Linked DNA regions of Homo sapiens. The protein of the gene in region 1 interacts with the protein of each later gene in a biochemical or structural test. Each region holds a gene or a part of one and is shown in the gene's direction. Other genes may lie near its edges. The genes, in order: NFE2L2, UBE2E2, TIGAR, MAPK7, ENC1, MAFK and TRIM41.

What was found.
Region 2: the proteins of NFE2L2 (region 1) and UBE2E2 form a complex in vitro, tested with the Homo sapiens proteins (one study listed by BioGRID).
Region 3: the proteins of NFE2L2 (region 1) and TIGAR form a complex in vitro, tested with the Homo sapiens proteins (one study listed by BioGRID).
Region 4: the proteins of NFE2L2 (region 1) and MAPK7 form a complex in vitro, tested with the Homo sapiens proteins (one study listed by BioGRID).
Region 5: the proteins of NFE2L2 (region 1) and ENC1 form a complex in vitro, tested with the Homo sapiens proteins (2 studies listed by BioGRID).
Region 6: the proteins of NFE2L2 (region 1) and MAFK form a complex in vitro, tested with the Homo sapiens proteins (one study listed by BioGRID).
Region 7: the proteins of NFE2L2 (region 1) and TRIM41 form a complex in vitro, tested with the Homo sapiens proteins (one study listed by BioGRID).

What each region holds. Positions count from the first base shown.
Region 1 is NC_000002.12:177,258,228-177,261,727, reverse strand, and holds part of NFE2L2 (nuclear factor erythroid 2-related factor 2), read left to right. Parts: intron 1-3,500.
Region 2 is NC_000003.12:23,531,827-23,535,326, forward strand, and holds part of UBE2E2 (ubiquitin-conjugating enzyme E2 E2), read left to right. Parts: intron 1-727; coding exon 728-875; intron 876-2,326; coding exon of another isoform or gene 2,327-2,388; exon of another isoform or gene 2,389-3,500.
Region 3 is NC_000012.12:4,345,213-4,348,712, forward strand, and holds part of TIGAR (fructose-2,6-bisphosphatase TIGAR), read left to right. Parts: intron 1-3,500.
Region 4 is NC_000017.11:19,381,498-19,384,044, forward strand, and holds the end of MAPK7 (mitogen-activated protein kinase 7), read left to right. Parts: coding exon 1-189; intron 190-283; coding exon 284-969; intron 970-1,315; coding exon 1,316-1,449; coding exon of another isoform or gene 1,450-1,453; intron 1,454-1,580; coding exon 1,581-1,734; 3' UTR 1,735-2,047; downstream 2,048-2,547. UniProt on the Homo sapiens protein: Plays a role in various cellular processes such as proliferation, differentiation and cell survival. The upstream activator of MAPK7 is the MAPK kinase MAP2K5.
Region 5 is NC_000005.10:74,630,729-74,634,228, reverse strand, and holds part of ENC1 (ectoderm-neural cortex protein 1), read left to right. Parts: intron 1-3,500. UniProt on the Homo sapiens protein: Actin-binding protein involved in the regulation of neuronal process formation and in differentiation of neural crest cells.
Region 6 is NC_000007.14:1,533,702-1,537,201, forward strand, and holds part of MAFK (transcription factor MafK), read left to right. Parts: exon of another isoform or gene 1-1,179; intron 1,180-3,500. UniProt on the Homo sapiens protein: Since they lack a putative transactivation domain, the small Mafs behave as transcriptional repressors when they dimerize among themselves.
Region 7 is NC_000005.10:181,226,281-181,229,780, forward strand, and holds part of TRIM41 (E3 ubiquitin-protein ligase TRIM41), read left to right. Parts: intron 1-3,500.

The sequences.
Region 1 (3,500 bases):
TGGGTGCCAGACATAATTGCTTCACATGCATAATTTTACAGTAACCTCACGGGAAATATTATTATCCCTGGTTTCCAGGTTGGGAAAACCAGGCATAATAGTTAGATCAGGCATTAGGTTAGGAAAGGTTAGGAGAGAGGCATAGAGAAAGGCCAGGACCTGCTAAGGTGACCATACTATTGAGTGGCCAAGGTAGCATTCAAACAGGTTTGACTCCTGGGGGCTTCTAATCACCACTTCCAGACTGTACCAAAACTCCTTAAACTCTAAATAGGAAGAAAAGCTCACACTTTAAAAAGTGGGTAAGTTGAGATTTGCCTATTCTGGGGGAAGGAGAGGCCGGAATATAAAAGATTAATGTCTGCAGCTTTTCCATTTAGCAAGACATTTAATCACTGTATGTGACGTGGGGAGGTGGACCTTGTTAAATACAGGGAGAGTGAATACAATCCATCAATGGTACCCACTGTGGTCCTTTTAAGGAAGACACAGAGGCCTCGGTGGATTCAATTTAGAAAGGCAGGACTGTTTTTTGTTTTTTGTTTTTTTTTTTTTTTGAGATGAAGTCTTGTTCTGTTGCCCAGGCTGGAATGCAGTGGCCTGATCTTGGCTCACTGCAGCCTCTACTTCCCGGGTTCAAGTGATTCTCCTGCTTCAGCCTCCCGAGTAGCTGGGATTATAGGCACCCACTGCCCGGCTAATTTTTGTATTTTTAGTAGAGATGGGGTTTTACCATGTTGGCCAGGCTGGGCTGGTCTCGAACTCCTGACCTCAGGTGATCCACCCGCCTCGGCCTCCCAAAGTGTTGGGATTACAGGTGTGAGCCACTGCGCCAGTCTGTTTCTTAATATAATAATAGTTTTAAAAATTTCTGATGTTTGGCAATGTCCAAGATTCTGCCTCACATTTTTCAGAAACTGCCTTTTTTCTTAATTAAATCTCTTAGCTACTGGAGTCTTTGCCTTTGTTTGCCTTGCTACTTGGTACATTTCTTCTGTTCCATTGGCTCTTTTTGTTTTGAAGTAGTGCTCAAAAATAAGTTTGGTAGTAAGAATATGGTGAAGAGTGTGACAGACAGGGTTAAACCAGGCTGAAGGAAAGAGAGCAGAATGGGGAAAATTTGAGTTGAAAACAGCTAGCAGAAAGCTGATGGCGCAAATTCAACCCTAATCTCATGTTTTGGCACTTCTGAACTATAGCAAGCATAAGGGCTCAACTCTTATCTAGTTGAAGCTTACTTGGGTCTTTGAGAATAGTACATCTCAAAATTAAACACTTTCTTAGTCCTTATTGTTAAGTTGTTTTTGGAATTATTGTCTTATTTGTCTGAATTAAGTGTGCTGCAGGACTTATAGGATCTGATGGATGATTTGCCTAAAAGTTGGTCCAGGTCAACCTCAGGGCATTTAAATGCTTGGTCCAGCCACTTTCTGAAAGTTGACTGAAATATGTTGCACAGCAGGGTAGAGGAGGACAAGTTTACTAGATGTCATTTTTAACCTGCTTGTCTTCATCTCTGACTGTAGAAATGTATATTCATTATAAGTTTGCCACAAATAGAGAATAGAGTTTATTCTTTGATCATCTAATTTCTAGGAGCTATTGAAATTTCACTGCTACCTGCTTTTAAATAAGCGCCAACAAACATTTATTAAAAGGGCTTTAAGGTATAGGCCAAGATTTATTCAATTGCTAATGGTATGTTTTCTGTAAATGAAAGCAAAAATATGTTCAAGTGTATAATATTAAATATTAACATTCAGAAACTTGGAGAAATACAGATGGCTTTTTTTTTTGAGACGCAGTCTTGCTCTGTCGCCCAGGCTGGAGTGCAGTGGCATGATCTCCGCTCACTGCAAGCTCCACCTCCCGGGTTCACGCCATTCTCCTGCCCCAGCCTCCCGAGTAGCTGGTACTACAGGCACCCGCCACCACGCCTGGCTAATTTTTTGTATTTTTAGTAGAGATGGGGTTTCACTGTGTTAGCCAGGATGATCTCGATCTCCTGACCTCATGATCCGCCTGCCTCAGCCTCCCAAAGTGCTGGGATTACAAGCTTAAGCCACCGCGCCTGGCCTAGATGGATTTCTTGTACCAGACTATACCCTAGACATGAAAACAAGACTGTTAAACAAAATCCTGTGCTACCTAAAGTTTGAGCCTTCTGTGTGTCAGTTTCTGCCATAATAAATAACTCTTAACTATGATTATTAAGTATATTAAGAACTTTGAGTAGGGGAGGCACGTTTAATCATTCGTTTTTACGGCATATGTACTATAATACCTGTGTGTTGCAAATCCTGGTATTTAAAAGTCTTTTTGTGTATTTGAGCATGTAAGTTTATTTGGTCCAAACTGCTGGTACTAGTAAAGACAAGTCCAGGGCATAAGTAGGACTTACAGCACCAAGTTCGTCTTTTTTTTTTGAGACAGAGTCTCAGTCGGTCACCCAGGCTGGAGTGCATTGGTACAGTCTGGGCTCACTGCACCCTCCACCTCCCGAGTTCAAGCGATTCTCCTGCCTCAGCCTCCCAAGTAGCTGGGATTACAAGTGTGTGCCGCCACGCCCGGTTAATTTTTGTATTTTTAGTAGAGATGGAGTTTCACTATGTTGGCCAGGCTGATCCCGACCTCAGGTGATGTGCCCACCTTGGTCTCCGAAAGTGCTGGGATTATAGGCGTGAGCCACTGCGCCTGACCTCCAAGTCCATCTTTCAAAGGCTCTGTTGATAATTGACTCTTGAGAGTCATTACAGTCCATCAACAGCCTGTATTCTGAATATTTGTTTTTAATTCTAAGACAATGCTAAATAGCCATTCCAAATAAGGTGAGAACTGAGACTTTAGGGCCTGTATTATCAGCTGTACACTGACAAGCTCTGAACTCTATTGCTTTTTCAAATCAGAGAAGAAAAATGAGTAAGAAAAGAAAAATATGGATCACTTAGGCTTTGATGCCTCCTCTGAGTTTATAGTGTTTACCTTCTGTATTACTTAGGTGATCCTCTCTAATGGCATTTTAAATCTCTGTTGATACTTGTCTTACTTATGTATCTGTTTTTTTTTCCTCTATAGTAGATAGAATTTATAGATATATATGTATTTTAAAGTAAGATACAATTTACGTACCTTACAATTTACCCATTTAATCTAATTCAGGGTTATGCAACCCTATGAATTTAGTAGTTTATTCATAGAGTTATGCAACCATCACTGTAATCAATTTTCAACACCCTCAAAAGAAACCCCATATCCATTAGCAGTCACTTCCCATTTCCCCTCAACTCTCCTGGCCCCTGGTAACTACTCAGTTATTTTCTGTACCTATGGATTTGCCTATTCTGGACATATCATGTAAATGGAATAGCATGTAAATGGAATCATACAGTATTTATCCTTCTGTTGCTGGCTTCTTTCACAGCAATATGTTTTCAAGGTTTAAAAATGTTGCAACGTATATCAATAGCGTCATTCCTTTTTATGGCTGCATACTATTCCAT
Region 2 (3,500 bases), on another chromosome or scaffold:
CAAGGCAGGCGGATGACTTGAGGTCAGGAGTTCAAGACCAGCCTGGCCAACATGGCAAAACCCTGTCTCTACTAAAAATACAAAAATTAGCTGGGTGTGGTGGCGGGCACCTCTAATCCCAGCTACTTGGGAGGCTGAGGCAGGACAATCGCTTGAACCCGGGAGGTGGAGGTTGCAGTGAGCAAAGATCACGCCACTGCACTCCAGCCTGGGCAACAGAGCGAAACTCTATCTCAAAAAAAAAAAAAAAGAAAAAAAAACTGTTATAGAATAATATTTATTTTCTTTGTATTAGTACTCTCATGCTTTTTGGTGTTTGAATATTATAAATGTACAAAATCCTTAAAATAACTGGAATCTAACAAAAGTTTTCTTTGAAATTTTTTAGAAGTCAGAGTCAGTTTCTCCCCATGAACATTCCTGTAGTTGTATCAAAAGTAAATTCAGTCCCTAAAACATTTGTTAAATAACAGGACTCTTTATAAGAAGCAGAATGTCATGGTTTTGCTGTTGATGTTTATTTCTCTGTGCCCAAAATGACAAATTCTAAAATGATGATCTCTGTTGATTAATCTCATGTGCCCAAGAAAAAAATCAAGTGTATGTTAACCAATAGCCTGGGCTATTTTGTCTGATAAAATAGGCAATTTTATTAGACAAAAATTGTCTATAGATACTGTTAATAAACACTTTGTCTAACAAAATATAACTTTACATTTTCTTGTAGGTTACCTTCCGAACAAGAATCTATCACTGTAATATTAACAGCCAAGGTGTGATCTGTCTGGACATCTTAAAGGACAACTGGAGTCCGGCTTTAACTATTTCTAAAGTTCTCCTCTCCATCTGCTCACTTCTTACAGATTGCAACCCTGGTAAGAGACTTTAAATCTAGTATGAATTGGAGCTTGTCAAGATTTAAATGTCAGACCCTTAGTAACTTGTTTACTACTGCTACTACCACTACCACCACTGCTTCTACTACTATTATTGTTAAATTTTCATAGTATGTAACTATTTTCTTTTTAAATTGGGTCTTCTCATTAGTGTTTTTAAGACCTATCATTTGCCAAAAAGGAAAAAGTATAGTGTGGTAAAAAAAATAATGAAAAATCATTTTAGATGGGAAAGTACGTTTAAAGAATGAATTAAGTTATCCTGCCAAATAATAATAAAAATTCAAGTTGAATAGCTTAATCTTTAATTAGATGCCTACTAGAAGATGTTAATTTGAGGAATGTGGGCTATTAAAATCTGATAACAACCAGGCAGCACCATGCAGACGTGACCTTTTTGGCATCCTAGTAACTGTGCATCCTGACAAGCTATTATAACGGTCCTGAATGGTCTGTTCTAGGAAATACCCCAAAAGTAAACAAGGAAATACACCTCCCAAGAAAACGAAAAAGTCTATAGCCAGGCCTTTATGGCTTGCTGGTGTGCTTACCACTGAAAATTCTTAATTCCTGGGCCATGTCTTTACAAATTGGGTTTATTTTAGAAAATACAAAAATCCAAAGATAGCTATAGGGTTTTCATTGATGTTCTCAGTGGGAGAATTATTTTATGAGTAATTAATAGCTTAAATATTGCATGAGATTCCCTCTTCTACAATCATGAGTAAACTCTGTTCACTGGATACATGAAATTTTACACAAATGGAAATGACGAGTATCAGTGGGGTTGCTTAGGATCCTGGCTGTTTTATAAAACATCAAGAAATAACAGTCTTTCTACTTTTATATTTCTTTATTTTTCAGCAGTAAAATCTTTTTTAAAGTAGCAAATTAGTATTTTTTTTTTTTTTTTTTTTTTGAAACTGAGTCTCACTGTGTCACCCAGGCTGGAGTGCAGTGGCACGATCTTGGCTCCCGCAACCTCCGCCTCCTGGATTCAAGCGATTCTCCTATCTTAGCCCCCCAAGTAGCTGGGATTACAGCCGTGTGCCGCCAAGCCCAGCTTATTTTTGTACTTTTAGTAGAGACGGGGTTTCACCGTGTTGGCCAGCCAGGTCTCGAACTCCTGACCTTGTGATCCGCCCGCTTTGGCCCCCCAAAGTGCTGGGATTACAGGCATGAGCCACTGTACCCAGCCTGCCCAAAAAATAAAATTGTGCAGGATCATTATAAAATATTTTTTGAATTAATTCATACTTTACTACAGACAGTAAAGTCCAATAATGTTATACTAATTTAAAGTTAATTTTGTTCTTTCAGTCCTGTTGTTCCCATTTTAATCCCATTTGTCTGTGACTGTGTATAACCTTGTATAACCTCATTTGGAGGTAATGTTGCAAGAAGGCTTTTTTTTTTTTTTTTTTTTTGAGGTGATTTCGAAGCCTGGCCTGCTTTGCCTCCAAGTCAGCTGAAATGGAATCTGTTACCCTGAATAAGCCTGTATATGACAGCCTGTTCTCTCTACAGATATTCCTGCTTAAAGGAATAGATTCATTCCACCAAAGCCTTCTCTCAGCAATCAAAAAGACTTCTGTTCAGTGAACTAGTTTTTTTTTTTTGCTCCGTTTCAGAAAATTACAAATGCATTCTGCAAAAACTTAAAAATCACTCCTAACTAAAGCAGAACCACATAAGTAAAAGAAATAGATTTTGAAATAATGCTATTGATAGTAAGAACAAGCCTAAAAATAATGTTCCATAAAACCAAAGACAGCCTGCCTCATATGAGACTAGAAGAGAATTTGTAAAATACATGCTAACATTTAGTTTATCACACTTTTTAACACATAAAAATAAAGTTTCCTAATTGGTTTTTATGAATGTTGACACTTCTAGAATCTTAAATAGAGTTGTTTATTTTAAAGTAGTCAAATGTCCATTCTTTTGCTTAATGGACTTATTTCACACTGTTATCTGGTACACTTTCAATCTCTGTAGGTTTTTTTACCTACAGAGGTAGGAAAGATTAGGTTAGATTGAAGTTTATCTTAAATCTATCTTCAAATTATCACAAAAACAAGTTTGATAGAATAGGAATAAATAAGATTTTCCTACACTGAATCTGTAGAGCTATTTTAACCCGGAAATGCTGTCACCTCAAAAATAGGCCTTGTATAATGATACAAATTTAACTCACTTAAAAAATACTTTCTCACTCTTATCCATACATAAACTTATTTTCTAAATCTTTTTCATACTCTTTTTGTAATTTGCACTTGTCTCTTTAAAGAATTTTTGGTCCATTCCAACACAGATGTTCTTTAGGGTATGACTACCCATCCTTATCAGCATGATATTTGTAGACAGCAGATGTAGATTTGAAAACCAGTTTAATTGTTTATTAGTCATATCACATTGGATGGGTCACTTAACTTTCCACAGGCTTAGTTTTTGATATAAAATTGGGATTAGTACCAGCCCTGCCTAAATCACTGGATTCCTCTGAGGTTAAAATGAGATGGTATATGTGAAAGCCATTTATAAATGGTAATGTGTTGTTGATATTGTTACCCAGAGTATTTGGGACACCAAATGGGCCCACAA
Region 3 (3,500 bases), on another chromosome or scaffold:
CCTTCGAGCTACCAATGACTTTCTTCACAGACTTGGAAAAAACTACTTTAAAGTTCATATGGAACCAAAAAAGAGCCCACATTGCCAAGTCAATCCTAAGCCAAAAGAACAAAGCTGGAGGCATCACGCTACCTGACTTCAAACTATGCTACAAGGCTACAGTAACCAAAACAGCATGGTACTGGTACCAAAACAGAGATATAGACCAATGGAACAGAACAGAGCCCTCAGAAATAATACCACACATCTACAACTATCTGAACTTTGACAAACCTGACAAAAACAAGAAATGGGGAAAGGATTCCCTATTCAACAAATGGTGCTGGGAAAACTGGCTAGCCATATGTAGAAAGCTGAAACTGGATCCCTTCCTTACACCTTATACAAAAATTAATTCAAGATGGAGTAAAGACTTACATGTTAGACCTAAAACCATAAAAACCCTAGAAGAAAACCTAGGCAATACCATTCAGGACATAGGCATGGGCAAGGACTTCATGACTAAAACACCAAAAGCAATGGCAACAAAAGCCAAAGTTGACGAATGGGATCTAATTAAACTAAAGAGCTTCTGCACAGCAAAAGAAACTACCATCAGAGTGAACAGGCAACCTACAGAATGGGAGAAAATTTTTCCAATCTACTCATCTGACAAAGGGCTTATATCCAGAATCTACAAAGAACTCAAACAAATTTGCAAGAAAAAAACAACCCCATCAACAAGTGGGCAAAGGATATGAACAGACACTTCTCAAAAGAAGAAGTTTATGTAGCCAACAGACAGATGAAAAAATGCTCATCATCACTGGCCATCAGAGAAATGCAAATCAAAACCACAATGAGATACCGTCTCACACCAGTTAGAATGGCAATCATTAAAAAGTCAGGAAACAACAGGTGCTGGAGAGGATGTGGAGAAATAGGAACACTTTTACACTGTTGGTGGGACTGTAAACAAGTTCAACCATTGTGGAAGACAGTGTGGCAATTCCTCAGGGATCTAGAACTAGAAATACCATTTGACCCAGCCATCCCATTTCTGGGTATATACCCAAAGGATTATAAATCATGTGCTATAAAGACACATACACATGTATGTTTATTGCGGCACTATTCACAATAGCAAAGACTTGGAACCAACCCAAATGTCCAATAATGATAGACTGGATTAAGAAAATGTGGCACATATACACCATGGAATACTATGCAGCCATAAAAAAGGATGAGTTCATGTCCTCTGTAGGGACATAGATGAAGCTGGAAACCATCATTCTCAGCAAACCATGGCAAGGACAAAAAACCAAACACCGCGTTTTCTCACTCGTAGGTGGGAATTGAACAATGAGAACACTTGGACACAGGAAGGGGAACATCACACACCAGGGCCTGTTGTGGGATGGGGGGACGGGGGAGGGATAGCATTAGTAGATATACCTAATGTAAATGGCGAGTTAATGGATGCAGCACACCAACATGGCACATGTATACATATGTAACAAACCTGCACGTCGTGCACATGTACCCTAGAACTTAAAGTATAATAAAAAATATATATTAAAAAAAAATGACAAAGAGACATATGAAAAAGTGCTCAACATCATTGGTAATCAGAGAAATGCATATCCAAACTACAATGAGTATTTTACCCCAGTTAAAATGGCTTTTATCCAAAAGACAGGCAATAACACATGCAGGCAAGGCCATGGAGGAAAGGGAACACTTGTATGCTGTTGGTGGGAATGTGAATTAGTACAACCACTGTGAAGAATTGTTTGGAGGGAGGTTCCTCAAAAAACTAAAAATAGAGCTACCATGTGATCCAGAAGTTCCACTGCTAGGTATGTACCCAAAGAAAGGAAATCAGGATATTGAAGAGATATCTGCACTCCCATATTGCAGCACTTTTTACAGTAGCCAAGATTTGGAAATAATCCAAATGTCCATCAGCAGATGAATGGATAAAGGAAATGTACACACACAAACAATGAAGTACTTTTCAACCACAGAGAAGAATGAGATCCTGTCATTTGCAACAACATGGATGGAACTGGAGGTCATTATGTTAAGTGAAGTAAGCCAGGCACAGAAAGACAAACTTGTCATGTTCTCACTTATTTGTTGGAGCAAAAAATTAAAACAATTGAACTCATGGAGATAGAGAGTAGAAGGATGGTTACCAGAGTCTGGGAAAGGTAGTAGGGGGAGGTGTTGGGGAAGTGGGGATGGTTAATGGGTACAAAAAGAAAGAATGAATAAGACCTAGTATTTGATAGCGCAACAGGGTGGCTATAGTCAATAACAATGTAATTGTACATTTGAAAATAACTAAAAGGATATAATTGGATCATTCGTAACAAAAAGGATAAATGCTTATGGGGATGGATACCCTGCTTACCAGGATGTGATTGTCATGCATTGCATGGCTGTATCAAAGTGTCTCATGTGCCCCATAAATATATACATTTACTGTATACCCACAAAAATTAAAAATTAAAATACAAACAGAAAAAAGCCAAAAAATGAAAACCTCAGTGGAAGTACTGAAGTATAGATCACACACGGCTGAAGTGATCATTATAGATAAATATATGATAATAACCTAAATGTAGCACGGCATGATAGATTTAAAATATGAGAGTTTAGCTGGGCACAGTGGCTGATGCCTGAAATTGCAGCACTTTGGGAGGCCGAAGCGGGAAGATCACTTGAGCTCAGGAGTTTGAGACCAGCCTGGGCAACATAGGGAGACCTTGTCTCTACAGAAAATAAAAAAGTTAGCTGAGTGTGGTGGCACTTGCCTGTAGTCCCAGCTACTTGGGAGGCTGGGGTGGGAGGATCACTTGAGCTCAGGTAGTTGAGGCTGCAGTGAATCGTGATTGTGTCACTTCACTCCAGCCTGGGTGACAGAGCGAGACCCTGTCTCAAAAAAAAAAGTCCCTTTAAAAAATAAATAAAATAGGAGACATTAGAAGACATGAAGAGCATGATGAGAAGTTCTAATGTCTTTCAGAAAGAGATAGCAGAGAGAATGGGAGGAAGAGGTGATATTCAGAGGTTACAGAATATTGACAATTTTACAGAATTTACAGAATTGTTGAAAGATCCAAGAAGTGTACCAAATCCCAACCAGGATAAGTAAAGAAACCCATATCTACATTCATTATAGCAAAATTGCAAGACTCCAAAGAATGAGGAAAAAACCATCCTTTATTAAAGACCATTAGTTAGGCTGTCAGCAAATTTGTTCATATTGATGATTTCTTTATTGTGCTGAGAAATAACAAGGATTAACCTAGAGTTTTATACCCAGCAAGATTTTTTTCTGCTGTGTAGGTGAAATGACATTTCAGACAAAGAGATTCTGAAGTAACTTTGAAAGGAAAAATGAAAAAGAAGGAAAATAATTGCAGAAGGGAGATCTGAGTTTCAGAAAAGAATAGTGAGCAAAGAAGTTGGTAAAGGTTTAGGAAAATACAAGGAAATATTGACAGTACATATAA
Region 4 (2,547 bases), on another chromosome or scaffold:
CCATGGAGTCTCCACCACCAGCCCCGCCACCATGCCCCGGCCCTGCACCTGACACCATTGATCTGACCCTGCAGCCACCTCCACCAGTCAGTGAGCCTGCCCCACCAAAGAAAGATGGTGCCATCTCAGACAATACTAAGGCTGCCCTTAAAGCTGCCCTGCTCAAGTCTTTGAGGAGCCGGCTCAGAGGTGCCTTGTGGGCAGGTCGGGTGGGCAGAGGGGAGACTTGGACTTGGACAAGGCTTCAGGCTTTTACCTTCTCCCCTGCCCAACTTCCCCGCAGATGGCCCCAGCGCACCCCTGGAGGCTCCTGAGCCTCGGAAGCCGGTGACAGCCCAGGAGCGCCAGCGGGAGCGGGAGGAGAAGCGGCGGAGGCGGCAAGAACGAGCCAAGGAGCGGGAGAAACGGCGGCAGGAGCGGGAGCGAAAGGAACGGGGGGCTGGGGCCTCTGGGGGCCCCTCCACTGACCCCTTGGCTGGACTAGTGCTCAGTGACAATGACAGAAGCCTGTTGGAACGCTGGACTCGAATGGCCCGGCCCGCAGCCCCAGCCCTCACCTCTGTGCCGGCCCCTGCCCCAGCGCCAACGCCAACCCCAACCCCAGTCCAACCTACCAGTCCTCCTCCTGGCCCTGTAGCCCAGCCCACTGGCCCGCAACCACAATCTGCGGGCTCTACCTCTGGCCCTGTACCCCAGCCTGCCTGCCCACCCCCTGGCCCTGCACCCCACCCCACTGGCCCTCCTGGGCCCATCCCTGTCCCCGCGCCACCCCAGATTGCCACCTCCACCAGCCTCCTGGCTGCCCAGTCACTTGTGCCACCCCCTGGGCTGCCTGGCTCCAGCACCCCAGGAGTTTTGCCTTACTTCCCACCTGGCCTGCCGCCCCCAGACGCCGGGGGAGCCCCTCAGTCTTCCATGTCAGAGTCACCTGATGTCAACCTTGTGACCCAGCAGCTATCTAAGTCACAGGTGAGAGGGAGGCCCAGGCCATGGGGACACCTGGGTCTGGGCCAAAGGAAAATGGGTTCAGGAAGCGGTCAGTGTTCCACAAAAACTGAGCAGCAGATGGGGCTTTATCTCTGAACGTGTCCTCTTGCTCACAGAAGGAGCATAATGGCAATGAAGAGGTTGTTAGGAGACAAGTTAAATATGGCCTGCAAAGTGCCTAGCCCAGAGATGGGGCCAGCCAGCACTCACTGACTGCCGAGACTGGTGTTAGCACTCCCAGATATCCAGGCGGAGTAGTCAGCAGCATTGGGACAGGGTGGCCTACAGACCTCAGTCTGTCTGCATTGTAACCTGTCATTCCCTGCAGGTGGAGGACCCCCTGCCCCCTGTGTTCTCAGGCACACCAAAGGGCAGTGGGGCTGGCTACGGTGTTGGCTTTGACCTGGAGGAATTCTTAAACCAGTCTTTCGACATGGGCGTGGCTGATGGGCCACAGGATGGGTAAGGTGGCTGGACTGAGCTCCTAGACTGGGACTGTGGGGAGAGGTTCCTGGTGCAGGAGACATGCACCTGTGGGATGGGTGAGGGTCCAGCCTAGGCTAATAGCACCCCTCCCTTTCCTTCCCCTGCAGCCAGGCAGATTCAGCCTCTCTCTCAGCCTCCCTGCTTGCTGACTGGCTCGAAGGCCATGGCATGAACCCTGCCGATATTGAGTCCCTGCAGCGTGAGATCCAGATGGACTCCCCAATGCTGCTGGCTGACCTGCCTGACCTCCAGGACCCCTGAGGCCCCCAGCCTGTGCCTTGCTGCCACAGTAGACCTAGTTCCAGGATCCATGGGAGCATTCTCAAAGGCTTTAGCCCTGGACCCAGCAGGTGAGGCTCGGCTTGGATTATTCTGCAGGTTCATCTCAGACCCACCTTTCAGCCTTAAGCAGCCACCTGAGCCACCACCGAGCCATGGCAGGATCGGGAGACCCCAACTCCCCCTGAACAATCCTTTTCAGTATTATATTTTTATTATTATTATGTTATTATTACACTGTCTTTTTGCCATCAAAATGAGGCCTGTGAAATACAAGGTTCCCTTCTGCACCTGACTCCAGGTGTAATTTTTGGAGTTCGGGGTAGGACACCATCAGCAGGGGAGCAAGGAGGAGCCAGGTGCCTACATTTGGGGGATAAACAAATATGTTTGTGTGTATGAAGCCAGTTCATTCAGGTTCTGAAGGTTTATTGAGACCTTCAGTCCCTACCCACTCCCAGCCCTGCAGAGATTGTCCTCTGCTCCCTCATGTGGCTAAACCTCTCAACACCCAGAGGGTATGGGGAAGACCTCATATGCATGCCTACCTTGGCTGTGGCTGTTTCAGGGTGGTGTGCGGTAGCTGTGTTCTTGGCATAGAGCTTCAGGGGCTGGGATGGGCCATCAGGGGAAGCTGAGTATGATAGTGAGGTGGGCTGGGGTTCCACGGTACTCACCACAGGGGAGTAAGTTGGTGGGAGGGATGCTGAAGATGGGACATGGTTTGAGAGCAGCCCAGAGGAGTGCTGGGCTGTGGCCTAGAATACACCATGGGCCCTGTTCACACTGCACTGC
Region 5 (3,500 bases), on another chromosome or scaffold:
TGTTGGCCAGGATGGTCTTGATCTCCTGACCTCATGATCCGCCCGCCTCGGCCTCACAAAGTGCTGGGATTACAGGCATAAGCCACCGCACCCGGCCCTGAAGAGCTTTTTTAAAAACTGCCCATCCCAGAGACTTAGTTTCATTTGGTCTGGGGTGGGGTCCAAGCATCAGTATTTTTAAAAAGTTTCCGGATGATTCCAATGAACAACCAAGTTGAGAACCCCTGACCTCTGTTAAGTATGCCAGCTAATGTTTATTGAGCCCTCACTGTGTGCTTGCAGCGGTGCCACGTGTTTCCCACGGATCATCTCATTCTATCCTCACAACAACCCCGTGGGGAATTATTACTAGCTTCATTTTATAGATGAAAAAACCTTCATGCATTACGGAGGCTAAGCTGCCCGAGTTAGCAGAGCTTAGTAAGAGGTGGAGCTGGTTAGGAAGTCAATGCAGGGGGTCTGGCTCTAGGGCATCAGCACTGGAGCATCGTGTTGCACTGCCACCGAATAAACTTGAGCTTCACATCCATGACACCAATGTCATCCCAGGTGATACTTCATTTATATTCAAATTTTGCTTCCTCAAACCCTTTGTAGAATGATTAGGGTTTAAAAATGTATTGCTCAAATTCATTCCTAGTTTATTCTCTCCAAAATTATTAGCTTATTTTAAATGTTTTACTTAAAAAGTAGCCCCCTTTAAGGCGTTTATTACCTTTAAAGATAAATCTATATCTGTCTTTGTAAAAGGTTGCATGTACATAGCAGAAATTTGTGCAGATAACACAGAGCCACCTAAACTTCCCAAACTATGGCCTTTCAGAGTTAATCAGTCAGGCCGACCCTATTGTCAAGGCTAACAAAAGTTGTGTTTCTGAGTCATATATCTGAGTACATAATAGTTGTCTGTGTATTTAAGAGTATAGAATACTCTTGGCTCAAATAATTAATAGGCCTACACAGTTCAGAGTTCGCAAAGCTCACGGCTGCTTTGCTGCTAAGCATTCTTAGGATTGGCCCCAGGAATCGCTTAGGCATGTGTAAGTATAGCCCAGCGCACACAGGATGTGTTGACTTGTTTTGGTGATTCATGGGCTTATTACTAATAATAAGAGAAGAAAGTAACTGCTTTGGAGGAACTACAATGAAAACAAACTCATTTACTTGGGAACTTTTGGCTCTGTTTTCCCTAGTATGTTTCACACCTTTGAAGGGGACTTCAAAGGGAGAAAAGGAGATCTAGGCCTAGTGGCAAGCTAAGCACAGAGGGGTTTCATCTCATTGGTCTTTTCTTTCCCTGTCCCTTACAGCTCATTTAGAAACATCATTAAACTTGGCCTCACTCTCACATTTCAGCTTGCCATTTTATTTTCTTTTTGAGACAGAGTCTTATTCTATTTCCCAGGCTGGGGTGCAATGGTGCTATCTCAGCTCGCTGCAACCTCCGCCTCCTGGGTTCAAGGGATTCTCCTGCCTCAGCCTTCCAAGTAGCTGGGATTACAGTGCCCGCCACCACGTCGGGCTTTTTTGTATTTTTAGTAGAGATGGGGTTTCACCATGTTGGTAAAGCTGGTCTTGAACTCCTGACCTCAAGTGATCCACCCATCTCAGCCTCCCAAAGTGCTGGGATTACAGGCGTGAGCCACCGCACTTGGCCTCCAGCTTGCTATTTTTTTTACTTCTTCAGTTATCTCTTCCAGCCTTCGTACAGTTATCAGAGTTCTGAGTTATGTCATGCTTTCCTGGAATGAAACTCCTTCAAAGCAGCAGGAACAATCAGACACCTCCTCTGGGGAGCAACTGGGCTAATAGTGTCTCACACCAAACTGGTTTTTTGTAGCCTTGCTGGCATCTCAGTAATCTTGAATAAACAAATGCTCTGAAAGTGGTTATTTCATTTGAGATATGAATGCATGACTCACCTCTAAAGCAGGTTTAAAGAACCTCCTAGGCGAAAGCATCAATTAACAGCACACTTAGTTGGGTGTTAGTCCAGAACTGACTATATTTGCACAGAAGAGCCATAAAAATTGCTACCAGGGTGGTGGTACATAAAAAATGACAATGGGCAGGCTGGCTGGAATCCTTGGAACAAGGTAAGGAAATTGAGGCAGAAAGAGGAGAGAAGCCACATGTGTATTCTGGCCCTAGTTTTAAGTTCTAGACCTTCCTGAGTTTTAGGTTGCTTCTCTGTCAAATGAGTGGTTTGATCTTTAATCTCCTGTGATCTGTCCCAACTCAGACTTGGGTCAATTGATAGGGGAGTTAAAAGAGGCGAAAATACCTAGCCCAGTGCTTGACGTGTAGTAACTTACTGTGAGATAATGGCAGTGGAATTAGCTTTCTGTGTGGTAGGAAAATGAGGTTTCTTTGACTATTATCTGCTTGTTATCTTTAGACTTCACTTTTGGTTCCTCCTTTTTCAGCCCAGAGTGAACATGTTGGCAAACACTTGACTTCACCCTACCCTGGGTGTTTGAACTGAATCATACCCTTCCGGTCGCTGGGAAACAGAGCAAGTAAAGTGTTAAGTTATATGTGAAATAACATCCTCTTCACCCTTGGCGCTACCAGTGAGAGAGTCAAGCACATGAAAACTAAATTTGACAGGGCCAAGTTTGCTGCTTTTAAAGGGCAGCGTAAGCGCCTGATCAAAGCCACTCTTTGAATTTCCGACAGGGAGAATGTTGGTTAAAATTTCTAAAGTTTACTACACAAGATAGTGCTAAAACATTTAAGAGGGGGTTGGAGTGCCTTAAAGTGCTGGGTAGGTGGGTCTCAGTCCCAAACTGCAAATTCCTCTGCCCTCCAAATGTAGGTGCTAACGGAATTAATAGAGTGTTTAACAGAAAGTTTCCCTAGGTCTTAAAGCTCATCCACCTAGGAGGTTTTATCTGCCTCCTGCTGCTCTGCCAGTGGGTGGGAAGGGCAGAAAGGAAATTACTTTGATTATCCTCTGTTTTCATGGTGCCGTGTGGCCTCAACCTAACTTAGGCTTTGATTTGCTTTGTTTCTTCTCTAGATTTTGTTGTTGTTGTTGTTGTTGTGTGTCCTTTTTTTTTTTATTATCGTTCCTGTTTGAATATGCAATTTTTTGGGGGGAGGGTGTGTGTATTCCTTTTTTCCTGTTTGAATATGCATTGTCTTGAAATTTTATATTATTATAAGATACATTCTTTTGGCCTAATGTTGACATATAGGTTACAAGGAGGTGGAGGTGGGGCAATGACACCGTAGTCTAAGGCATGCCTTGAAAGCTTGAATCACTGTTAGGAAACAGCCAAAAGAAACAACTCATGAAATGAATCAGGCTTCTGAACACACAAAAGCAAAGAATTCAGTGCAAGGTCATGAGTGGCTCCTCCAGAATTCCCTTTGTCTGTACTTAGACTTACAGCAATAGGGATACAAAAGCCCTCTGCACAATTTCCCCAGATGAAATGAGAAATAAATAAATGGGAAGAGTAAGCAGTGTGAGGAAATGCAAGCTCTATGAAATG
Region 6 (3,500 bases), on another chromosome or scaffold:
ATGCTTGAGGGCTGGGATCAAGCCTGGTTGGCGCGTGGATGAGGAAAAGAGAGAGGGGCAGGGGCAACTCCGGTGAATGATGCGGTTGGGGGCTGGGGGGCATCTGGGCCCCCCGGAATGCCCCTGACTGGACTTAGAGGCTGGGAGCGGATTGAAGCCCCAGGGCGGCCGGGGGAGAACAGGATGCTGATGGGGAGCTGGAGGCCGAGGACAGGAGGATGGTGTGGTGGGAGCCAGGGCGGGGACTGGAGGGGGTGTGGTGTGTTCTGCAGTCTGCTCTCTGCTGCTGCAGCTGCCTGAGTCACCTCTGGATGTAGCGGAATGACACAGCTTCCTCAGACTGCAAATGCAAGGTGACCAGACGTCCTCCAAGCCGGGCCGACAGTCATGGCTTGCTGGAGGGCAGCCAGCCAGGGCCAGGCTGCTGGCTGGTATGGGCCGGGCTGCGGGGTGCCAAGTGGGGTGCCTCCCGCATGCTTAGTGGGGCTGTGTCCGGGACAGCCGGACAGTGGGGGCCCTCGCAGTGTAGGACCTCATCCTCAGTAGGAAGGGTGTCTGGCTGGTCTCTGGGACCAGCTGGGCTGCAATTAGTCGGTTGACACCTGTTTGACAGGCACCCACTGGGTACCAGTGCCACAGCGGCCCCACCTACCCTTGCGGCCCAGTGTGGAGGGCACCCGGCTTGGGGTCTCTGGCAGAAAGGCTCCTGGGAGAGGCGGGTACACCTTGGGTGGCCTCTGGTTTTGTGGATTGCACCTGCCGTGGGAGTCACTGGTCGGGGGGCGGGAGGGCGCTTGCTGCTGTGCTGCTGGGTTTCTGAACCCGTGTCTCTCGCACAGAGCTCCCGTCCTCCGTTCCTGGTCTTCCTCCTGCCCCTCCTCCCTCTCCCGCATCCCACATCCTCGGAGACCCGCGGAGAATAGAAGTGGAAGGGCCACTCCGTCTTGGTCAGACTGGCTGGGCAGCTGAGGGGGTGGGGCATGGAGTCTGTGTCATCATTCACCCCTTGGGCAAGAACAAGTGACCCATCCAGAGCCCCCATGCTGGCCTCGTAGAGCGAGCGGCAGCCCCGATGCGTCCTCTCATCTGGGAAGAATCAGAGCCCCAAAGCTGAAATCCCCGTTTCTCTATGGGCATCCACAGCCGGGACCGTTCAGAGGGGTCATCCAGCCGTCAGCTGCTCAACTCACTTTTGCACTCTCTCTTTTTTTTTTTCCTAAAAGATAAGGTCTTGCCCTGTCACTCAGGCTGCTGGAGTGCAGTGGTGTGATCACAGCTCACTGCAATCTCGACTTCGAGGCTCAAGCAATCCTCCCACCTCAGCCTCCCGAGTAGCCGGGACCATAGGCACATATGTGCCATCACAACTGGCTATTTAAAATTCTTTTTTTTTTTTTTTTTGTAGAGATGGGGCCTTGTTATGTTGCCCAGGCTGGCCTGAAACTACTGGGCTCGAGCATTCGGCCTCCGGAGGCGTTGCTATTACAGGCAAGAGCCACTGTGCCCAGTCCCAACTTGGTGGAGAAAATGTTCCCTCCTGGACCCCAAAGCAGGTCCTTCTCAGCTTGTGCCAGCACAGCAAGAGGTGCCAAGGCTGCCAGCCCCCCACTGAGCAGGGTCAGGCCCATGGGTGACCAGTGAGTATTTGCTGGGACTTAAAAAGTTAAAAATGGCCGGGCATGGTGGCTCATACCTGTAATCCCAGCACTTTGGGAGACTGAGGCAGGAAGATCACTTGAGTCCAGGAGCTCGAGACCAGCCTAGGCAACATGGTGAGACCCTGTCTCTACAAAAAAGTTTAAAATTCTCTGGGTGTGGGGGTGCCCACCCGTAGTCCCAGCTGCTCGGGAGGCTGAGGCAGGAGGATCGCTTGAGCTCAGGAGGTCTGCAGTGAGCTGTGATTTCACCACTGCACTCCAGCCTGGGTGACAGAGTGACACCTTGTCTCTAAAATGAAAATTAAAAGGGAAAACATGATCCTCCAGAAGCTGAGGTGGCTGCCTGGGGATCACCTGCTCCTGAAAGCACAGTTCTGGACGACTGACCCTGGGCTGCCTGCCCTGCCGGGGGGAGCCCAGGGCTCTGATCCTCACCCTCTGCAAGGTGCCTTCCTGGGCGGAGCCGCCCTGCCCTGCGCTTTATGGAGCCCAGGCCCTCAGTCTGGATCCTGGAAAGGGGCGCCCGGCGTCCTGGCTCCGTCACTCATCCCCAGCTGCAGCCGCAGGAATTGCCTCTGTCTGAGGCTGCTGGCAGTTCCTTTTCCTTGAGAGGAAGTGATGCCCCCGCTGAGCCTTGTTTAGTTCTGCGTCACGTCGAGGTGTCTGGCCTTGGGTTGAAAACCCTGCCTCTTCCATCCGAAAACCAGTTACCTGAGAGCTGTTCCAAGTTATAGGTGGTGCCGGAGAACTTTGCTGCCCGGCGCTGCTCCCGGGACGTGGGGCGTGAGCGCTGCACCCTTACTTACGTCGGCTGCTGGGGCCCCACAGCGGAAACTCAGACCCGCCCACCCAGGCCCCCGCTGTGGCGCTGAACACTGCACTTCTCTGGTGACCACCGAAACTCAGAGGAGCTCGGGGTGTCGGGTGCTTGTGCGTGGCGATGCTGGTGTTTTGTTAGCTGCTGGGCGTAAGACACAATGCGAGGACGTCGTTCCTCGGGGGCTGCTGGAGGGGAGCTTGGCTGCAGTGCTGACCAGGTGCTAATGCAGTAGCCCCTGCCTTGGGCCCGGGGTAGTGCACGGGCGTCTCTGCGACCCCAGGCACGCTTTCCCCCTGGATGACACCCTAAGGCTGCGTCTCTGGCCCTGGGGTGGGAGCGCTTTCTACATGTGCTCTGGCGGCCCTGGAGGCCATGTGAGGTCGGACAGTTCACAAAACCCCATTTAGGGCAGTCGTCATTTTTAGATCAGTTGCTTTACAAACTTTTTTTGTGCATACAAAACTCTTCTCTGAATGTCCTTCCAAAAGCAAGCTGTCATCTTTCTTGCCTCTGATGTTTAAAGCGACATTAGGTTAAGGCTACTTGGATTTATTCTGTGCATGGTGGGGAGAGGGAGGCGCCAGCACCATCCCATCCCGTGCTGGGTTCCTGAGAGAAGCTTTGCTGCTTGGCTGGGCCGTCCCGCTGCGTCGTCTCTCCAGGCGCGTGGCTGGTCCAGGCTTCCTCGGCAGAGCAGAGTCGTGACCTGCCCAAGGAGGTGGGGGGCAGGCTTGCGAGCACAGCGTGGGGGCCGCCTGGGAGCCCTGCGTCCGCCAGGTCCTCATTCTTCAGAGGGCCCCAGTGCAGGTGTGCCTCGAAGTACTGGGGTTGGAGCGGGGCACAGGCGTGCTTCAGTAGCCCTGGCAACCTTGACCTCCTGGAAGTAGTCAGCCACCCCTCCTGGGGCGCCCCCGGCTACCGTGTGCCTCCGCAGTGTCACAGGGCATCGCGGAGGCATCTTTTTAGTGGAAAGATCCCCACGCTGAACTCTGCCCCTGGCATCTGGCCGAGCCCCACACGTC
Region 7 (3,500 bases), on another chromosome or scaffold:
TTTTAGTAGAGATGGGGTTTCACCGTGTTGGCCAGGCTGTTCTGAAATTCCTGACCTCAGGTGATCCGCCTGTTTTGGCCTCCCAAAGTGCTGGGATTACAGACATGAGCCACTGTGCCTGGCTACACAAAGATTGTTAAACCTGCCTGATTGTTGGAATTACTAGGGGAGGTTTTCAAAAATACAGTGGATCCTACCACTAGAGTTTCTGAATCAGTGAGTAGGAGAATATCTTTAAAAAGCCCAGTCTAGCATGGGGATCACTGCATTGGTAACATTGCCTAGCTGTTAGTCCCTGCATTTTTAGCAGAGATTGTGAGGTCCTGTTGTCCTTTCCATCTCCTCAGTTCCTAGTTAACCATACCCATCATATCATGTGTGGTCACTTTGTGAACAGGAACCCAGGCCAAACTATCCATGGGCATTCCACCCTTTCTCTTTCACCTCCCCCTGTAGGACTGCTCCAAGGAGCTTCTGAAACTGGATTTTAATTTGCATTAGCCAAATTTGTTCAATGCCAGCTGCCTGAAATCCCGTATTAGGTCCTGAAGTAGGTGAGGAATTAAAAAAAGTCATAATCTCTTTTCTTTTCCCCCCTTTTTTTTTTTTTGAGACAGAATTTCACTCTTGTTGCCCAGGCTGGAGTGCAATGGCACAATCTTGGCTCACCGCAACCTCTGCCTCGGATTCAAGCGATTCTCCTGCCTCAGCCTCCCGAGTAGCTGGGATTACAGGCATGTGCCACCACACCTGGCTAATTTTTTGTATTTTTAGTAGAGACGGGATTTCTCCATGTTGGTCAGACTGATCTCGAACGCCTGACCTCAGGTGATCCGCCCAACTTGGCCTCCCAAAGTGCTAGGATTGCAGGCGTGAACCACTGCGCCTGGCCATACTCTCTTTTCTTGATCTGTTTACTGCGCTCTGCAGTTTGGGAGGCCATATACACATATTTAATCTGACATTAAGTGATGAGTAAATGTAAATACATAGTTTTATTGTATAGGACTAATTTGAGTGATTCCCTTTCTGACTTAATAGGCTATTTTACAAGTGGGTCATTTATTTTTTTATTTTTATTTTTTTTGAGATGGAGTCTCGCTCTGTCGCCCAGGCTGGAGTCCAGTGGCGTGTTCTCGGCTCACTGCAAGCTCCGCATCCCAGGTTCACGCCATTCTCCTGCCTCAGCCTCCCAGGTAGCTGGGACTACAGGCGACTGCCACCACGCCTGGCTAATTTTTTTGTATTTTTAGTAGAGACAGGATTTCACCATGTTAGCCAGGATGGTATCGATCTCCTGACCTTCTGATTTGCCCGTCTCGGCCTCCCAAAGTGCTGGGATTACAGGCGTGAGCACCGCGCCCAGCCACAAGTGGGTCATTTATTCTTTTCAGATATGTACATGCAGTAACCAGTAGCTTGGCAAAATGTTTTGTAAAAATTTTTTTTGTTGAATAGGTAATAACACACAAATGATATGTAAATATAGTTCCTGAACAGTTACATGTTTGTTTTGTTTTTTTTGAGACAGGGTCTCACTCTGGCCAGGCTAGAATGCAGTAGCATGATCATAGCTCACTGCAGCCTTGACCTTCTGGGTTCAGGTGATCCTGAGTAGTAGCTGGGACTGGAGGTGTGTGCCATCATGCCCAGCTAATTTTTTTTTTTTTTTTTTCGTGGAGACAGGGTCTTGCTGTGTTGCTCAGGCTGGTCTTGAACCACTGGCCTCAAGCAATCTTCCCATTTTGGCCCCTCAAAGTGCTGGGATTACTGTGTCTGCCCGACAGTTAAATGTTTTGAAAGTTGGCCGGGCATGGTGGCGGGTGCCTGTAGTCCCAGCTACTCGGGAGGCTGAGGCAGGAGAATGGCGTGAACCCGGGGGCGGTGGAGCTTGCAGTGAGCTGAGATCACGCCACTGCACTCCAGCCTGGACAACAGAGCGAGACTCTGTCTCAAAAAAAAAAAGAAAAAATGTTTTGAGAATTTCTCTTATAACTGGCTGGCTGTGGTGGCTCACGCCTGTAATCCCAGCACTTTGGGAGGCTGAGGCAGGTGGATCACTTGAAGTCAGGAGTTCAAGACCAGCCTGGCCAACATGGTGAAATTCCGTCTCTACTAAAAATACAAAATTAGCCAGCATGATGGCATGTGCCTGTAATCCCAGCTACTCGGGAGGCTGGGGCAAGAGAATCGCTTGAACCTGGGAGGCAGAGGTTGCAGTGAGCCAAGATTGTGCTACTGCATTCCAGCCTGGGCAACACAGCGAGACTCCCATCTCAAAAAAAAAAAAAAAAAAAAAAAGGAAATATATCTTAAATAGAACTCTGTTTGAATTTGTGCTTATTAATTTTTGTTTTTGTCAGCAATTTAGGGTCCCGGCACGGTGGCTCACACCTGTAGTCCCAGCACTTTGGGAGGCAGAGGTGGGCAGATCACTTGAGGGCAGGAGTTAAGACCAGCCTGGCCAACATGGTGAAACCCTGTCTCTACTAAAAATACAAAAATTAGCCAGGTGTGGTGGTGGGCACCTTTAATCTCAGCTACTCGGGAGGCTGAGGCAGGAGAATTGCTTGAACCCAGGAGTTGGATGTTGCAGCGAGCCGAGATGGCACTGCTGCACTCCATTCTAGGCGACAGAGCAAGACTCTGTCTCAAAAAAAAAAAAAAAAAAAAAAAAACAGTAAATGGTAAATTTAAGCGTTATAAATTCTGAATTAATGGAGAAATTATTGACTAGAAAAGTAGAAAGTTATATCAGAAGGCCAAATTTTGTGTAGTTCATGCTATTGTCACGAGTTGACTATAATTCCATTATTACTGTAATTTTGTCTACAACCACTTATCCTGTGCAGCAACTGCTGTTTGCACTCTGGCTTGGTAAACTCTTTAGTTCAGGGGTCATTATCAGGATGTCACTGGCAGCTTAAGGTATAGGGAACAAATATTAGATAACATTTACTGATCTTCTGCTACATGCCAGGCACTGCAGTAAGTGTGCTATCCATGAGGTCCATTCTCTTCTTATTTGAAGCTGAGGAAACTGAAAGCATGGCTTGCCTGAGGTCACTTCACTTCCCTCTGGTCCTGACTGGAGTCAGGCTGGAGCTCTCCTACCCTATATTCTCTCTCAAAGAAAAGGAGACAGGCTAGTAGAAGACATAGAAAAGGTAAGAGCAAATAGGTAGGGCTTATTCCACTCATTCTGGGCTAACAGCCCTTTAAAGAAAAGTATTTGGCTACAAATTGTAGAAACACAGAGCTCGTGTGCCTATTGGCTATAACAGTTACAACCTTTGGAAGAGGGGTTTCGGTGTCCTTTGCCATTTAGCAAGTAATTGAGCAGGAGAGAAAGCAGATGAGCAGAAAGAAGCAAAGAAGTTGAAATAAGTAGAGTGTGGGCAGGGACTCCGCAGTGTCCTGGAGGAGGCACACCTGTCATTGGTGCCCTGGGAACTCATGTATTAGATATTTCTTGGGATCACAGAGGATGTTGGGGGTGG